5 linked regions of the Homo sapiens genome follow. The gene in region 5 interacts genetically with the main gene of each other region. Each region holds a gene or a part of one and is shown on either strand. Other genes may lie near its edges. The genes, in order: ACTL6A, EIF4G1, SEC22B, EXOSC6 and MRPL22.

The links.
Region 1: changes in MRPL22 (region 5) and ACTL6A together harm fitness more than expected from each alone (negative genetic interaction), as found in Homo sapiens cells (one large-scale study listed by BioGRID).
Region 2: changes in MRPL22 (region 5) and EIF4G1 together harm fitness more than expected from each alone (negative genetic interaction), as found in Homo sapiens cells (one large-scale study listed by BioGRID).
Region 3: changes in MRPL22 (region 5) and SEC22B together harm fitness more than expected from each alone (negative genetic interaction), as found in Homo sapiens cells (one large-scale study listed by BioGRID).
Region 4: changes in MRPL22 (region 5) and EXOSC6 together harm fitness more than expected from each alone (negative genetic interaction), as found in Homo sapiens cells (one large-scale study listed by BioGRID).

The regions. Positions count from the first base shown.
Region 1 is NC_000003.12:179,569,377-179,573,031, reverse strand, and holds part of ACTL6A (actin-like protein 6A), read right to left. Parts: intron 3,209-3,655; coding exon 3,132-3,208; intron 2,966-3,131; coding exon 2,791-2,965; intron 1,510-2,790; exon of another isoform or gene 1,262-1,509; intron 1-1,261.
Region 2 is NC_000003.12:184,321,056-184,324,710, forward strand, and holds part of EIF4G1 (eukaryotic translation initiation factor 4 gamma 1), read left to right. Parts: intron 1-226; coding exon 227-1,048; intron 1,049-1,306; coding exon 1,307-1,395; intron 1,396-1,488; coding exon 1,489-1,675; intron 1,676-1,765; coding exon 1,766-1,899; intron 1,900-2,027; coding exon 2,028-2,186; intron 2,187-2,349; coding exon of another isoform or gene 2,350-2,352; coding exon 2,353-2,538; intron 2,539-2,724; coding exon 2,725-2,922; intron 2,923-3,145; coding exon 3,146-3,292; intron 3,293-3,655.
Region 3 is NC_000001.11:120,159,497-120,163,151, forward strand, and holds part of SEC22B (vesicle-trafficking protein SEC22b), read right to left. Parts: intron 1,035-3,655; coding exon 888-1,034; intron 1-887. UniProt on the Homo sapiens protein: SNARE involved in targeting and fusion of ER-derived transport vesicles with the Golgi complex as well as Golgi-derived retrograde transport vesicles with the ER.
Region 4 is NC_000016.10:70,246,236-70,249,194, forward strand, and holds the end of EXOSC6 (exosome complex component MTR3), read right to left. Parts: 3' UTR 543-2,959; downstream 1-542. UniProt on the Homo sapiens protein: Non-catalytic component of the RNA exosome complex which has 3'->5' exoribonuclease activity and participates in a multitude of cellular RNA processing and degradation events.
Region 5 is NC_000005.10:154,954,547-154,958,201, forward strand, and holds part of MRPL22 (large ribosomal subunit protein uL22m), read left to right. Parts: intron 1-1,824; coding exon 1,825-1,890; intron 1,891-2,588; coding exon 2,589-2,666; intron 2,667-3,655.

The sequences.
Region 1 (3,655 bases), on a different chromosome or scaffold from region 5:
ATGGCCTTCTGATGATACTACTGCTGGATTTATAAAAAAAAAAAAAAAAGAAAGAATTGTATGGTCTAGACCCGACACTCAAAAAAACTTACAATCTATTTGGAAAAAGACTAAAAGACATGTTAAAAATTCAAAGAAGAGCATCTGTCTTCAATTTGGCTTCCACCTAAACATTCCATTAAAACTACTGACATAAGTCACTAATGACCTTCTTTTTTCTTTTTTTTGAGATGGAGTCTCGTTCTGTCCCCCACACTGGAGTGCAATGGCACAATCTCAGCTCACTGCAACCTCCGCCTCCTGGGGTCAAGCAATTCTCCTCCCTCAGGCTCCCGAGTAGCTGGGATTACAGGTGCCCGCCACCGTACCCAACTAATTTTTGCATTTTTAGTAGAGACAGGGTTTCACCATGTTGGCCAGGCTGGTCTCGAACTCCTGACCTCAGGTGATCCACCCACCTCAGCCTCCAAAGTGCTGGGATTACAGGCGTGAGCCACCGCCCCCAGCCACTAATGACCTTCTACTAGGCAAATTCATGGATACTTAACATTTTTAATCTCATCTGACTTCTCTAAATTATGACAGTATTGCCTACACAAGAGTTTACAAACTTTTCTGTCACAGCCCAAAGAAAAAATGTCATTAATTATATATTTCCACAGGCCCACCTGGATTTTTTTAACTTCTTTCTTAGTGTAAAGCTTTCAATGTCACAGCAGAAAACACCGAGAATAACTGGAATTTTATGCTTCCAGAAACTTTTTCTTTTCTTGTTCTTCCCCTGCTTTTTTTCCTACATCCCTAATTGTTCCCTTTCTTTCTCCTTCAAGGGTACCTTTTATTCTCTATTGGTTAAAATATACAACAAGTTTTTGCTAGAACTCCATCTTCAATCCTCTTCTCATGTTCCAATTTTTTTCAGAGTAATAAAATGCAACTCCATGTCTTAAAATCTTTCTTATAACCTTTTATTCCCGTTTACTGAATTATCACCTGGATGTTCTAAGTACTTTGAACTCAGTGAACCCATTTACTTACTACACATGAAAGAGTTAACACTGCAAGCCTGAGAAAGGCCTGCTTGTAAGGCTGACTCTTAGCTGGTGTCTGGAAACATGACTGGCAAACAGTTCCCTATGTTCATATAAAACTTGTCCCTAAATGGTAAGGGTAGCTCGCTATACCTACACTGTTTATACAATGTGGTTTGTTCTGAACACTTGCTTTCCTTCTGAGAATCTAAAATTTTGTTACATGCCAGGTAGATGGTACCTACATAACCAGCCCTCTGTAAAATCCTTGGGTACTGAGCCTCAGAGTTCTCCTGGAAGGTAACACAGATCATAACTTGTTGCTGGAGGGATTAAGCACATCCTGTGTGACTCCACTGTGAGAAGACTCTCCAAAGCCTGTATCTGGACTTCATCATCCCCTGTCCCTTTTCCCTTTGTCGATTTTGTTTTGTATCTGAATCTTCAGTACAATAAATCTTAGCTGTGAATACAACCATATGCTGAGTCCTGTGAGTGAGTCTTGCTGGTGAATAATTGAACCTGAGAGTGATTTTGGCTATCCCTGATAAGCTTGTTTTTTTTTTTTGTTTTTTTTTTTGAGACAGAGTCTCACTCTGTCACCCAGGTTGGTGTGTAGTCATGAGATCTCAGCTGCAACCTCTGCATCCTGGGTTCAAGTGATTCTCATGCCTCAGCCTCCCAAGTAGCTGGAATTACAGGTGGTACGCATCACCACACCTGTCAAATTTTTGTATTTTTAGTAGAGATGGGGTTTCGCCATGTTGCCCAGGCTGGTCTCAAACTCCTAGACTCAAGCAATCCACCCACAGTCTCAGCCTCCCAAAGTGCTGGGATTATATAGGCGCGAGCCACCACGCATGGCCAACCATGCCTTTTAAAACCGTAACACTTGCTCCTTCCCTTTATATTCCTATCTCAATGCATGGTACTCTCTGTTCAGAGTTACCCCAACCAAAAATCTAGGAAACTTTCTCAACTTCTCTCTTGCTTTCACTCCCTCGATCATTTAGTACCATTTGTCTCCTGGTTACCCTGAAAGTCCCTTCAGAATCTCTACCAGCATTATATAATAGTTTAAACCTTTTTCATTTCTCATCTGGACTCTGACCATCACATCTGTTTAAATTCCTTTGGGGTTATCCTTCAGTCACTAGCTTAATACAACCCTGGGATGGTTTACAAGCCCTTTTATGACTGCTCCCTGCCTACCTTTCCTGCTACTGCTCTCTGCCTACCTTTCCTGCTACTGACCCTAATAAGCCCAATGCTGCAACCATACTTAATTGTATTACATTTTCAAGCACATAAGTTTCTTTCACAATTCCATCCCTTCACACATGCTGGTCCCTTTGCTTTACCCAGCTTTGTCAGCCAAGCTAATTCTTACTCATTGATCAAGATTCATCATGTTACCTCCTTTGTGAAAACCATCACTGACTCCCAACACTAGAGTCAAATACCTCTCCTCTCTAATCCCATTGCTCATTGCACATACCTATATTGTACCACTTATCCCACAGTGTACCATTATTTGTATATATACATCTATTTCCCCCAACTAACTGTAAGCTTTTAATGAAAAGGAACATTTCTTATGCATCTTTGTATTCTCAGTGTCTGGAAATCAGTTTGTGGAATAAAAAACAAAACAAAACAAAAAACCATGGTTGATGTTCAACTTATAGGAAGCTACTACTTTGTATCTAAAATATAACATGTACACTCCATAATCAATTCCATGGGGAAAACATCATACCCATCCCATTTTTTAGAGGTGAAATGGCCTCCATATTCTCCCTCGGAACACGCAGAGCATTAGTATCTATGTAGTAGGTGGGACCGCCTTGTTTGCCTTTATCGCCATCTATTTCCATTAATGTGCTTCCGTCATCTCTTTCTACCACCATACCAATAGCTGTAGGAAAATCCACCTGTAAGAGTCAGAAACATGACATACAAGTTTCACCTTTCATCAAGAAGGCATTTTTTCCCCAATTAATGTATTTTATTATATTTTGTTTTGAATCAGAATTTCTGCATAAATTTAATTTACATGAATGGCTTTACATATCCAATTAACTCTAACATTACACTTACCTTGGGGCAGTCCTCACCAGCATAACCAGCTCTCACAGTATAGGATCCAATGTCAAAAACAAGGGCTCCAACTTCATCTGAAAAGATTAAAGATAATTAGCATTAACAGCTTGCAAAAGTATCATATGAAAATCACAGCTCACTGCAGCCTCAACCTCCTAGGCTCAAGCAATCCTCCCGCCTCAGTCTTCCAAATAGCTGGGACTACAATGAATTTCTTAAATTTTTTGTAGACATAAGGTCTCACTATGTTGCCCAGGCTGGACTCAAACTCCAGGGCTCAAGCAATCCTCTGCCTCAGCATCCCAAAGTGCTGCAGGCATGAGCCACTGCACTCAGCCCAATTATATTCATATTATTACTCACTTGAACCTAGTTTCAAATACACCTTAAAGAATCATTTAATTAAAATATAACAAGGCATACACCGTATTTAAGTAGAGGTTCAATCAGTTAAGAAATGGTACACTAAAACTGGGTAATTTCAGTTTACTTATTAAAGGGAATTATTTGCAAAGATATAG
Region 2 (3,655 bases), on a different chromosome or scaffold from region 5:
GGTGGTGGAGTGACTTGAACTGGGTACCAGAGAATGATGACTTAGATTTCAGGTTGTGGGATTTTGAGGGTGAATTGGGTTTTGGATGAAAGTGGAAGTATAGCTTAGGTGGGGAGAAGATGATGCGGGGTTATTAAGTTGGGAATGCCTGGGCTGGAGGATGGGGAGGAACAACAGCAGTTAAGCACTTGCCTTTAGTTGCTCATTCTTCCTTCCTATGGTGCAGATGACCGGTCACAGGGAGCAATCATTGCTGACCGGCCAGGGCTGCCTGGCCCAGAGCATAGCCCTTCAGAATCCCAGCCTTCGTCGCCTTCTCCGACCCCATCACCATCCCCAGTCTTGGAACCGGGGTCTGAGCCTAATCTCGCAGTCCTCTCTATTCCTGGGGACACTATGACAACTATACAAATGTCTGTAGAAGAATCAACCCCCATCTCCCGTGAAACTGGGGAGCCATATCGCCTCTCTCCAGAACCCACTCCTCTCGCCGAACCCATACTGGAAGTAGAAGTGACACTTAGCAAACCGGTTCCAGAATCTGAGTTTTCTTCCAGTCCTCTCCAGGCTCCCACCCCTTTGGCATCTCACACAGTGGAAATTCATGAGCCTAATGGCATGGTCCCATCTGAAGATCTGGAACCAGAGGTGGAGTCAAGCCCAGAGCTTGCTCCTCCCCCAGCTTGCCCCTCCGAATCCCCTGTGCCCATTGCTCCAACTGCCCAACCTGAGGAACTGCTCAACGGAGCCCCCTCGCCACCAGCTGTGGACTTAAGCCCAGTCAGTGAGCCAGAGGAGCAGGCCAAGGAGGTGACAGCATCAATGGCGCCCCCCACCATCCCCTCTGCTACTCCAGCTACGGCTCCTTCAGCTACTTCCCCAGCTCAGGAGGAGGAAATGGAAGAAGAAGAAGAAGAGGAAGAAGGAGAAGCAGGAGAAGCAGGAGAAGCTGAGAGTGAGAAAGGAGGAGAGGAACTGCTCCCCCCAGAGAGTACCCCTATTCCAGCCAACTTGTCTCAGAATTTGGAGGCAGCAGCAGCCACTCAAGGTAAGGTGTGGTTGGACGGTAGAGGTAGGGCGGGCTAGGGGATATCGTTCCTTGCCCTCCTTGATGACCGCCCATTTTTGACATGTTTCTGGGTCCCTGCAATGGAATCTAAGAACTAGATTAAGGACTTTTAAGCCTAAAAAGGGTGATGCAAAGGGGAAATACTGTTCTTTGGCTGCTTTCTATTTCCCAGGGATTAAGGGTACTCCTTAAATTATTGGCAAAGATCCATGCTTTTATTTATTTATTTTTAATTAGTGGCAGTATCTGTGCCAAAGAGGAGACGGAAAATTAAGGAGCTAAATAAGAAGGAGGCTGTTGGAGACCTTCTGGATGCCTTCAAGGAGGTAAGGGAGCAGAAAATGGGAGGGGAGAGGGCCAAGTTGAGGTATGGAGCAGTGGTCATTCTGCAACCAAAACTGGATGTTCTGTTGTTCTAGGCGAACCCGGCAGTACCAGAGGTGGAAAATCAGCCTCCTGCAGGCAGCAATCCAGGCCCAGAGTCTGAGGGCAGTGGTGTGCCCCCACGTCCTGAGGAAGCAGATGAGACCTGGGACTCAAAGGAAGACAAAATTCACAATGCTGAGAACATCCAGCCCGGGGAACAGAAGTATGAATATAAGTCAGGTATGCTGAAGAAAGGGTTGAGAATGGCTTGAGTTTTCTTATTAGGGCCAGAGGAGGCAGTATGATTGCTTCATTCTGTTTTCCTTGCAGATCAGTGGAAGCCTCTAAACCTAGAGGAGAAAAAACGTTACGACCGTGAGTTCCTGCTTGGTTTTCAGTTCATCTTTGCCAGTATGCAGAAGCCAGAGGGATTGCCACATATCAGTGACGTGGTGCTGGACAAGGTTAGTGGCTTCAGTTGGGGAGGGGACGATAAGTTTGTGCTGGATGGATTGGGGAGGAGCCTGAGGTCCTGAAAGAGTAGTCAACCGCTCTAGCCTGCTTCTGAGACCTTTTCCTGTCCTCTTTGCAGGCCAATAAAACACCACTGCGGCCACTGGATCCCACTAGACTACAAGGCATAAATTGTGGCCCAGACTTCACTCCATCCTTTGCCAACCTTGGCCGGACAACCCTTAGCACCCGTGGGCCCCCAAGGGGTGGGCCAGGTGGGGAGCTGCCCCGTGGGCCGGTGAGTGGGGCTGGGTAAAGTGGCAGGTGGGCAAGGAGTGGGAGTGGATGATTCCGTGTCTCAGTGCCCGCGGGGAGGGGTTTGCCCTGGAGGCGTGTAGTAGTGGTGTCACATATTGTGCTGACTAGTTCCATGTCCCCTCTTGTCTTCATCCCTTGCTTAGCAGGCTGGCCTGGGACCCCGGCGCTCTCAGCAGGGACCCCGAAAAGAACCACGCAAGATCATTGCCACAGTGTTAATGACCGAAGATATAAAACTGAACAAAGCAGAGAAAGCCTGGAAACCCAGCAGCAAGCGGACGGCGGCTGATAAGGATCGAGGGGAAGAAGATGCTGATGGCAGCAAAACCCAGGTACTGGCAAGTCCTGCTTTTGGTCTCTCTCCATTTCTTCTCCAGGTCTGCCATCTGTGCCCTCTTTGCTTCTTTTTGTCCTTATCACTAGCATCTGTCATGCCTAAGTCCCCACCACCCTCTCCTGTCCCTCCCAACAGCCTGTTCTGAGACCCTCACTGGAACTCTTGTCTCTTCTCCCTCCAGGACCTATTCCGCAGGGTGCGCTCCATCCTGAATAAACTGACACCCCAGATGTTCCAGCAGCTGATGAAGCAAGTGACGCAGCTGGCCATCGACACCGAGGAACGCCTCAAAGGGGTCATTGACCTCATTTTTGAGAAGGCCATTTCAGAGCCCAACTTCTCTGTGGCCTATGCCAACATGTGCCGCTGCCTCATGGCGGTTAGTTTCCAGTGGGTTCTAAATCTAATGGTCTGGTTGCCCATTCCTATTCCCAAGACTCCTTGAGTCCAGCTTCTTGGTTCCCCTCCAACTTGTGCCTCTTCCAGCTGGAAGGAGGCAGAGCTGGGGCCAGAGATCTTCCTGGGTCAGGTAGTTAAAGGCTCTTGGAGGGCCTTCCCTGCCCAGGACTAGTCTTGAGTGTGACATTCTCTCTGACCTACAGCTGAAAGTGCCCACTACGGAAAAGCCAACAGTGACTGTGAACTTCCGAAAGCTGTTGTTGAATCGATGTCAGAAGGAGTTTGAGAAAGACAAAGATGATGATGAGGTTTTTGAGAAGAAGCAAAAAGAGATGGATGAAGCTGCTACGGTGAGAGAAAACCCACTATCGATTCCACTCACCACTTACCTCCTTCCCTTACCCAGATGCTACTCAGCTGTAGAATTTGGAATGGAGGTAGTGGTGTCTTGGGGATTTCTCTGGCTCAGGACGTTTTTTTTCCTTTTTGAGACAGTCTTGCTCTGTCACCCAGGCTGGAGTGCAGTGGTGTGATCTTGGCTAGCCTCCACCTCCTGAGTTCAAGCGATTCTCCTGCCTCAGCCTCCCAAGTAGCTGGGATTACAGGCATGTGCCACCATACCTGGCTAATTTTTTTGTATTTTTAATAGAGACGGGGTTTTACCATGTTGGCCAAGCTGGTCTCAAACTCCTCCTGACCTCAAGTGATCCGCC
Region 3 (3,655 bases), on a different chromosome or scaffold from region 5:
TATATGAAATATATACTTATGTTATATGGAAATATATTTAATATATATTAAATATATATTTAATATGGTAAGAGGTATTTAATAAATATATTTAAGGTAAATTAGGTAAACACACATACATGTAATATGTGCTAAAACCATTATGTTATTAAGTGCTTTAGGAGTTTAAAGTACAGAAGAGATTAATGTGATACAGGCTATAAGGATCAGAGAAAGGTTCTTTAAAGAGACAGTTCTTATGGAGGTCTTACAGAACAGGTCCAGCATAAGGCAGAATAGACCACTAAGGATAGTAAAGAAGCTGGTGTGGCTACAGAAGAATGTTTGTGAACTAGAGAATGACAGACATTTGCATCTTCCTTATTTTCCATATGTAGAGCACAATGCCTTACAAATAACAAGCTCTCAATAACAATGGCTGACTGACGGAAAAATAAGTCAGACTGGATCTTATCTTGTAGTCCCAGATTTAAAAGTTTTTCAGAGGAATGCCTTGATGAAAATGGCATTTTATAAAGATTGATCTGGCAGCAGTAAAGTCTCCCAAAGAGGCTACTCAAAAAACCACTGCAATACATCATTGAGTTTTCTCTCATTCATTTCCCTTAATTTATACAAGTTATATAATTTAATTAATTTTGTGAATATCTTAGAAATAATCATTGCTTCTAATATGGATGAGTCCTTTACACTGTTCCAACTCAACAAAAACTAATCATGCTAGGAAAAAAAATATATTGGAAGCATTGTAATGTAATGTACTTCTGGGAGATAAATTCTTAACAGTTCTAGGTAGAATCTAATAGCATAAAAGGCACTGCAAAATAAGCTATCCTTGTCTATGGAATGAGAACCATTTCTTCATAAGACTCATTGCTTTTAGATACCTGAGAGTGCTTCTCCTCGTTGTAACACTTCTTCAATATTGGCCACCATGATCCTCTGCACATCTTGCAATTCAGTGTTGATGGAGCCTAGATTTCTTCGAGCACGACTGTCAATGTAGAGCTTCTTGGTTTTCTGAATGAAAGTATCTAGAATGATGAAGAAAACTGACCATTTCTTTCATGGCCATCAAAGTACTGAGGTAGGAGATTAAAAGTTCTGAGTTGGCCAGGCGCGGTGGCTCACACCTGTAATCCCAGCACTTTGGGAGGCCAAGGCAGGTGAATCATGAGGTCAGGAAATCGAGACCATCCTGGCTAACACAGTGAAACCCCGTCTCTACTAAAAATATAAAAAGTTAGCCAGGCGTGGCGGCACACGCCTATAATCCCAGCTACTCAGGAGGCTGAGCCAGGAGAATCACTTGAACTTGGGAGGCAGAGGTTGCAGTGAGCCGAGATCACACCACCACCACACTTTAGCCTGGGTGACAGAGCAAGACTCTGTCTCAAAAACAAAAAAAAAAAAACCAAAACAGTTCTGAGTTTATTCCTGGATTTGCCACTGTCCATGGTTAACCAAACTCTTGGTTGAATATCAAAATCTAGGCTTTGATTATTTCATTTGTAAGATGTAAAGGTATAATTAGACGACCATTCAGGAGAAATGTCCTTTGAATACCTTTGAATTAGAAGTATTTGCTATCTAAGGCTGCTATCAGAATCCTTAGAGAAATTAAGACCCACTATAGTAAGCCTTTCCTGAAAACAGAAATTTTCAAACAGTATTCTGAGGACCCTTAGGCTAAGTGTTACTTACCTCTACACATTCCTTAAAAGGATGCTGGTAACACTCTAGCATTATTACAGCCTAACATGGCAAAAGGGTTCATGATCATTAAAAAGCTGAGAAACTTTACCTTTTCTCTAATATACATTCCCAGTTTCATTCCATTCTTAAACCTCAGGTAAAGCAAATATGTAATAGGGAGTTTTCCAAAATACCAATACAAAACTGAACTGAAGTCTCGGCCAGGCACTGTGTCTCACACGTATAAATCCCAGCATTTTGGGAGGCCAAGATGGGTGGATCACTTGAGGCCAGGAATTCGAGACCAGCCTGGCCAACAAGGCAAAACTCCCATCTCTACCAAAAATACCGAAATTAGCTAGCTGGTCATGGCAGCGTGCACCTCTAGTCCCAGCTATTCAGGAGGCTGAGGCACAAGAATCACTTGAACCTAGGAGGCAGAGGTTGCAGTTAGCCAAAATCATGCCACTGCACCCCAGCCTGGGCAATAGAGCGAGACTCTGTCTCTAAGTAAATAAATAAATAAATAAAAACTGAAGTCTCATCCATCTTTTGCTCATATCAGTATTTCTCAAAACTATAGGAAGAATGACTTATTATTAAAGATATTTTCAACTTTTGGCAAAAATCTTAATTTAAGTGTGCTGTACCCCTTTCATTTGCCTCTTTAGATCTCCTCTCTGCCCTCCTGCACCTTGCTTTCTGCACTGGGAAGCTGACTTGGATGAAGCGCCTCAAGACTCCTTGCTCTGTGCCAGTTAGGTTCAGGCAATGAAGAAGCCCCAACAGTAGGGAAGAAGGAGAACAGACAGTGAGTGATGTCCGGGTATTTATTCCCCTGGCTTCTTTCAGAGAAGGAAATAACCTTCTTCTGGAAGTATCCCTCTACCAAAAGTTACGCTCCTCTCAAGTTGGCCTTCTCTAGAAATTTTCTCCTTTTCAGTTTCAGAAACTGCTCCTCCCCCTTATACATTCAGGCCTAGGGATGGTAACAACCAGTATGCTACTGGTCAGAGGTTACTGTACCTTGTAATTCTCCTACAGCCTAGTCATATCTTTGTATATAATCCCTTAAGCTAATTTGGGTGTGCCATCTGTTTCCTGTATGACCCTGATACATTTGTCTTATTTTTGAGGGAGGTTTATGGGAGTATTACTGTCTATAAAAATAAAATTTGAAAAACTGGACATTATATAAAGCAGCACTTGGAGAGTATATAGTTATGAAACACTAGAGTGTTTTTCCAAAGCAAGATGACCCATTTATCTAGCAAACTTGAAACACTTCAAAAATTCTAAGCCAGTAAAACCAATTTCTCTTTTAACTAAAAATTTCAGCGATATAGCCTGATCCTACTTGTTCTCACTCCCTGTACTTACTGTACTTAGGACATTTCCTTTGATCCCTTACCATCAGATACTTTACCAGGTCTGATTAGTAATTAGTCTTTCTATAATTCTTGCACAAATACAGACACCTATGCTCACTATTCCTGAATGTAGTAAATATTATACCCCAATACCATGAGTACCAGGTATCTTCTATTTCTTTGTTATGTTTTGTTTTTTTAATTAGAGGATCTTATTCTACTAAAAGAAACAAAACATCATTCTTTCTGATTTCCCAATTCTGATCTCCATAAAATGAGCCTTATTGTGAGTGTGAGTCTGTGGACTGGGGTAAAGAAGAACTCAGCCATTATATGCCAATCAAGTAGATCTTTAGGCACAGTTCCTGTCACATGTGACTCTAAAGAAGAATCAAACCAAATAACAGAAAGGGCAAAAGGCAACAATTTCTATGGGGGAAAGATCAAAAGACTAGAGAAAATTACTTTTCAGAACAAAGCCTTAGTCACTCAAAAAGACAAAAAGAAGTGGAATGGAAAAGGATGCAGAAGCTAAAACTTCAGCAAGTAAACATCAGAAAAAATGTATAAATATTATATCAGTGTAACAA
Region 4 (2,959 bases), on a different chromosome or scaffold from region 5:
GATCTTCCATTGTCCACTTCAGGGTATTGCCACTGCAATATATTCTTACCATATACTTTTTCCTACCAGTACAAACTACAAATAACTTGGGTAAGTCCTGTCTGTACTTATTCTACCCACCTACTAGTAATTTCTTCTGAAAATATATATTTAGCTAACAAGTAATGTTCATTTACAATATAACATTTCTCTGAATTAGTTTTCTTGCATTATTAAAGAAATGTTATTGATAGATGGTCACTGGGGGACCACTGCTCCTCCCCGACAGTATTTAAATAACTGGTATAGGCTGCAAGACTTACCAGATACCTGCTGCGTGAGCGAAGGTTTCTGAGTATGATCTATATGCCATCCAACTAATATATCAACTGTATCCTTGATGGAAACAAAGAGAGAGGGGGCCAATCATTTTAAGATATTACTGCCATTCACCTGTGGACCATTCCACAGCAAAAGATCCTAAAAGGAGCATCTATGTTCTACCTACTCAACATTCTAGAAACTTAGAAAGGGGAGAGGGGCAGGAAAATAAAAGAACTACATTTCTGACAACAATGAAATAGTTTATTTTCTTCAAATATTTTAAGGTACGAACGTCAGAAATAAAAATGCAGCATTTAACCCTGGAACCTCAAATATCACTGATTATACTCAAAGGAGCAGAGGCATTGTTTTCCATCTGATTCCTCAGTTCCTCACACACACAACCATCCCCCTCACCCCATGATCTGAAAAGCGAAATGAGGAATTCACCCTAAAATTAGTGTGGAGAAAACAAGCAAATTAGGTTATTTACTAAGTGACTACATAAAAAACTGAGTATGAGACCAAGAAAAATAGATTCTGTAGTTTTAGTTAAAAAAAAAATTGACTTGTAAATCCCAACTACTCGGGAGGCTGAGACACAAGAATCGCTTGAACCCAGGAGGCAGAGGTTGCAGTGAGCTGAGATTGCACCGCTGCACTCCAGCCTGGACAATACAGCCAGACTCCATCTCAAAAAAAAAAATAATTAATAAATAAATAAAATAAATATACTGAAAATATTTCACTCCACTAAGATGTTAAGCTAAAAACAAATACTGTTTTCTCTTCTTCAATGTTTGTTAACATTAGTCCTTAATAACATCTGTTTACAATATCCCTAAATGCTCTCTTTAAGATTCCACCTGTGATTAAATTTCAAATACAAAAAAGTAAAACGGATTTGGGAAACTTTTCTATAAAGTACAGCAATTAATTTGCAATCCAAAATATAAAGCAAATTTTATATAATTTATGCTTTACTATATTAGTACTTGCTTCACATTAAAATTAAAGATCAGTATGGCACCACACATGAATAACATGCAGGCTCAGGTTACCATTATACATAAATTTTTAAAATAAATATATGGCAAAAATAATAATTGTCATTCCATTGAAAGAATATTTATTTTGCAGCTGTTAAAAGACATTTTTCCCTAAAAAAAGAAAAGCTGTGCTTTACATAGCAATCTTATAAAAGAAATGCTAGAATCAGAAAACCATCATTTTAGGCTGGGTGCAGTGGCTCACACCTGTAACCCCAGCACTTTGGGAGGACGAGGCAGGTGGATCACTTGAGGTCAGGAGTTCAAGACCAGTCTGGCCAGCTCGATGAAACTCCGTCTCTACTAAAAATATAAAAATTAGCAGAGCACAGTGGCACCTGCCTGTAATCCCAGCTACTCAGGAGGGTGAAGCATGAGAACTGCTTGAACCTGGGAGGCGGAGGTTGCAGTGAGCCGAGATTGTGCCACTGCCCTCCAGCTTGGACAATAGAGCAAGATTTCGTCTCAAAAAAAAAGAGAAAAAGAAAACCATTATTTTGCAATAGCCAATGTTATAATCTACACAGGCACAGACTATCAATGCTAAAAATCATTTAAAAGACATCTTAGGGGTAATTACAGAAATTTGAATATAGAACACATATGTAATAAAATTCATTTTCTTAGGTATGATTACAATATTCTTGTTATACAGAAGAAAAACCTTATTCTTGGGAGATGCAAACTAAAACATTATGGGTTGAACTGTCATCATGTGTATGGTTTTCAGATGCTCAACAAAAGTGTGTGAGAAAATAAAACTGGCAAAATATTAGTAACTGGTAAATCTAGGTGAAGCATATTATTATGAAATTATTATCGTATTTACAGGTATTTATTTTACTGGTGCATCTATCTTTCTATGAATGTGAGAATTTTCACAAGAGCTGGGAAAATGTTCATAATTATGCATGCAGAATAAGCCCAAGCTGGTGGCATTCTGTTCAGTTACAGGTAATTTTCTGAATCTTCCCTCAAATTTTTCTCAAACCTCTATAATCAAGGGGAAAAATGTTTTGTTTTGCTTTGCTTTTTTGAGATAGGGTTGCCTATAATGGAGTGCAGTAGCTTGACCATAGCTCACTGTAGCTTCAACCTCCCAGGCACAAGCGATCCTCCTGCCTCAGCCTTCAAGTAGCTGGGACTACAGGTGCATACCACCATGCCTGACTTATTTTTTTTCCTTTTTTTTTTTTTTTTTTTTTTTTGATAGAAACAGGGTTTCACCTTGTTGCCCAGGCTGGTCTCAAACTCCTGGACTCAGGCGATTCACCAGCCTCAGCCTCCCACAGTGCTGGGGTTACAGGAGTGAGCCACCATGCCCAGTTAAAAATACACTTTTTATTTAAAAAAAAAAGAGAACACTCCTTATATTTCCTTTATATTTTGTAAACTACATACCCAAAATAAAGCATATCAAAAACTGTAAAAAAAAAAAAAAAAAACCCTAATATCAGATATTCCAGACACAACAATACCATAATTTAATCACTTAAAATCTTACTCAAAACTAAATCAATGATCTTTTAGGCCAGGTGTGGTGGCTCATGATAGTAATCACAGTACTTTGGGAGGCCAAGGCAGGAGGATCACTTGAGGTCAGGAGT
Region 5 (3,655 bases):
TGTCTCGTTTATCTTTAGAAAGTGCCCTTAGACATTTCACCTGCCCAAAGTAAATGCTGAGGTTTTTTTTCAGTTTTGGAAGAGGATGATTAACTTTTGCCTTTCTTGTAAACACTTCTTCCTTTTTGCCATCCTCTGGTCAGGATTACCATTGTTTATATGTGTAAAATTTGAGGGTAATCATACAAAATTAAGGTTTAAAATTATCCCACCACAAGAATGCACAAATTAAAGGGTCTCTTCTTTTTTATTTTTATTTTTTTGAGACGGAGTCTCGCTCTGTCGCCCAGGCTGGAGTGCAGTGGCGCAATCTCAGCTCACTACAAGCTCCACCTCCCGGGTTCATGGCATTCTCCCGCCTCAGCCTCCCGGGTAGCTGGGACCACAGGCGCCGGCCACCATGCCCGGCTAATTTTTTTTTTTTGTATTTTTAGTAGAGACGGGGTTTCACCATTCACAGGATGGTCTCGATCTCCTGACCTTGTGATCCGGCCGCCTCGGCCTCCCAAAGTGCTGGGATTACAGGCTGAGCCACTGCTCCCGGCCAAGGGTCTCTTCTATATGAAAGATTTCATTGAGTGGATTAATTTTTGCAGATTATTATTATCAGTCATGATAGTTCTTTCCTCTCCCTGTCTCCCCAAGAAACTTTATTGCTGAAAATGTAATTAGGCTATTGCTATAGTTTCAGGCTGTCTGCTTCTATTGCAACTGAAATCTGCCACATATTAAAAGATGGCCACTTGAGAAAACTGCTCTTTCTAAGGCATTTGAAAATTTCCAGCAGGAGTCAGAATGTTAGAAAGTTTTGAGACCTCCTTGCTATAGTTTTCCATAACACATGTTTTCTAATTTTTTTTTAAATGGCAGTTTGGTATAGTAGTGGAAAGAAAGTGGGTTTTAGAGTCAATAGAGGAACTTTTGAAAGTAGATGTGCTAGACATTGTATCAGGTGTATCATACTTCTCTGTTCTTTGAATTCCAACTTTGTCTCTTGCAAACCTCTGGTCTTAGACAAGTCACTTGATTTCTCTGATTTTCAGTTTATATGTAAAATGTTTCATCCCTCAACTCATAGAGTTAGACTAAATGAAATAATGAGTGAAAAGTGCTTTTTGAACTATACATTGTAATTAAACAGGACATACCTACAACTTTAAATAGAAGATAATAAAAGCTAACATTTACTGAGAAGTTACCATGTGCCAAGCACTATAAAATGGTTTCTTGAAATAGGTTACTTTATTTCCCTCTAATTATCGTTTTATTTATTTTACAGAAGAGGAAAATTAGAGAGAGGTTAAGTAGCTTGCTCAAGATTATGTAGCTAGTAAATGGCAGAGTTAGGATTCAAATCCAGGCAGGCAGTCTGATTCTAGAACCTATGCTGTTGGCCAAACACCTAGAATATTGGCTTTTCACATGAAAACACTTGTCCATTTTGCCATTTTTCTCCTCATTAATAATGAACGTTTTCTTGTACTTTTTCTTTTGTTCTTTTAATCAGCTAAATGTTTTAAAGATACTTTCATTTAAATCTTTTAGGATTTCTTTGGATAGAAATGTTGCAAGTGTTGACACAAACCAGCCATTGTATAGTTTCTATTTCTCCCGTAGTAATCTTTTAACATAGTGAGACTTTGGAAAAATACAACTTTGTGTAGGGGAAAATAATCTCTAAATTCTTAGTAATGTTTCTATTTCTTATGGCAGCATTTTCTTTAGGCCTAGAAAGTAAAAACTTAAATAACAGTATATGTTATTGTCATTTTGTGGTAAACCTGCTAACATTTTCTTTCTGTCCTTTTTTTTCCAATTTGTAAGGAAATCTACCACTGTCGAAGACAAATAAAATATAGCAAAGACAAGATGTGGTATTTGGCAAAATTGGTAAGCTGCAATGACTATTACCATATAATTAATAATTTAGGAAAGAAGCTATGAGTTCCCCTCCCCACCCCTCACCCCAGGATTTGAAAAATAAAAAAGATTTGTGAGGAATGTGATATAATTGGTAGGTTGTCAAAAGAATGATTGTTCAGAGATGTATGATTTTCCTTAATTTTCACCTTTTTCTGAGAAACTAAATCACATTGGATAGATAGATACTAAAAGGCATCAGGAGTTTGGCTATAACCAGAGAATCCAGGAAACCCACCTATTTATCTGTAAACTTGATTCAACCTGTTTTAAAACTGTTGCTTTTAAGTTTTTTTCCCTAGGAAATGAAATTTATAGATGAGGGGAGACTGAAGCAGCAAATATACATGTAATACATTTATCCTATAGGAGAAGGAGATGCCTTGAATGCCTAGTGTGGTTGTTACCAACCTGTGGTCTCTCTGTCATGTTTGCTGTCTTTTAATGTTATTGAAACTATTATAATCTCAGTTTTATGGTTAAAATGTTTGTTTCATTTTGACTGAAAGAGAATAGTGTCTCCTCTCAAACTTGTTTTCTTCTCTTTTATTTGGGTTCAATTCACTGTTTTTAGAAGTTACTCAAATTATGTAAGACTTTCATTGAAAAGGAAACATTGACTTTGTAAACTAATTTATTTTCTTTTGTCTCTCACCCTTTAATTCTAGATACGAGGAATGTCTATTGACCAGGCTTTGGCTCAGTTGGAATTCAATGACAAAAAAGGGGCCAAAATAATTAAAGAGGTAAACTTACAAGTTTGGGTGTGGTAGGGAATGGGGAACTGGGGAATGCAGCTGTCTTGCAATTATTAGTAAGCTTAGCCTAAATCATGAATTCCCTAAATTTTCTGTTGTAAATGCATACTTTATATAATACAGATTTAGGGTTCTCAGTTTATTAAATATGTGTATACTTTAGGAATGTTGTGTGCTTTAGGGTTTATTTCCTGAGGTGCTTTTATTTCCACCAAATATTTATCTGTTTTTTACTGCTTATGATGTGATGAATCTTATTTTTAATGATTTGGGGCTTGGTACGTATATGTGTGTATTTGTGTGTATGTATGTGTGTTTGTGTATATAATTTATTTCTTGGAGCAAGGCTGAACTTCAAGGTATATTTTTTTGAAGATTTTTTTTTTCCTATAAAGGAGAGTTTTTATAACTAAGTAATTTTGTAACTAAATGGAAAGAGCCCTGGACTGGAACTCAAGAGACTTGGACTCTAGTCCTTTCTCTGATCTTTTTCTTGTGACCGTGGGCAAGACACTTAACCAGTCAGTTTCTATTTTTCTCACCTAAACTATGTGGAATTGGATTAGATGACCCCTAAAGATCCTTCCAACTCTAAATGTAGCTAATTCACTAGATACAAATGTGCTGATGGTAATTGTGGTGACTCTTTCTAGGAACATGAATATTCTTTTTTTATTACATATATTTTTCTTTTTTTTTTTTTTTTTTTTGAGACGGAGTCTAGCTCTGTTGCACAGGCTGGGGTGCAGTGGCGCCATCTTGGCTCACTGCAGTCTCCGCCTCCTGCGTTCAAGCGATTCTTCTGCCTCAGCCTCCCGAGTAGCTGGGACTACAGCTGCGCGCCACCATACGCGGCTAATATTTTTGTATTTTTAGTAGAGATGGGATTTCACCATATTGGCCAGGCTGGTCTTGAACTCCTGACCTCAGGCGATCCGCCCACCTCAGCCTCCCAAAGTGCTGGGATTACAGGCGTG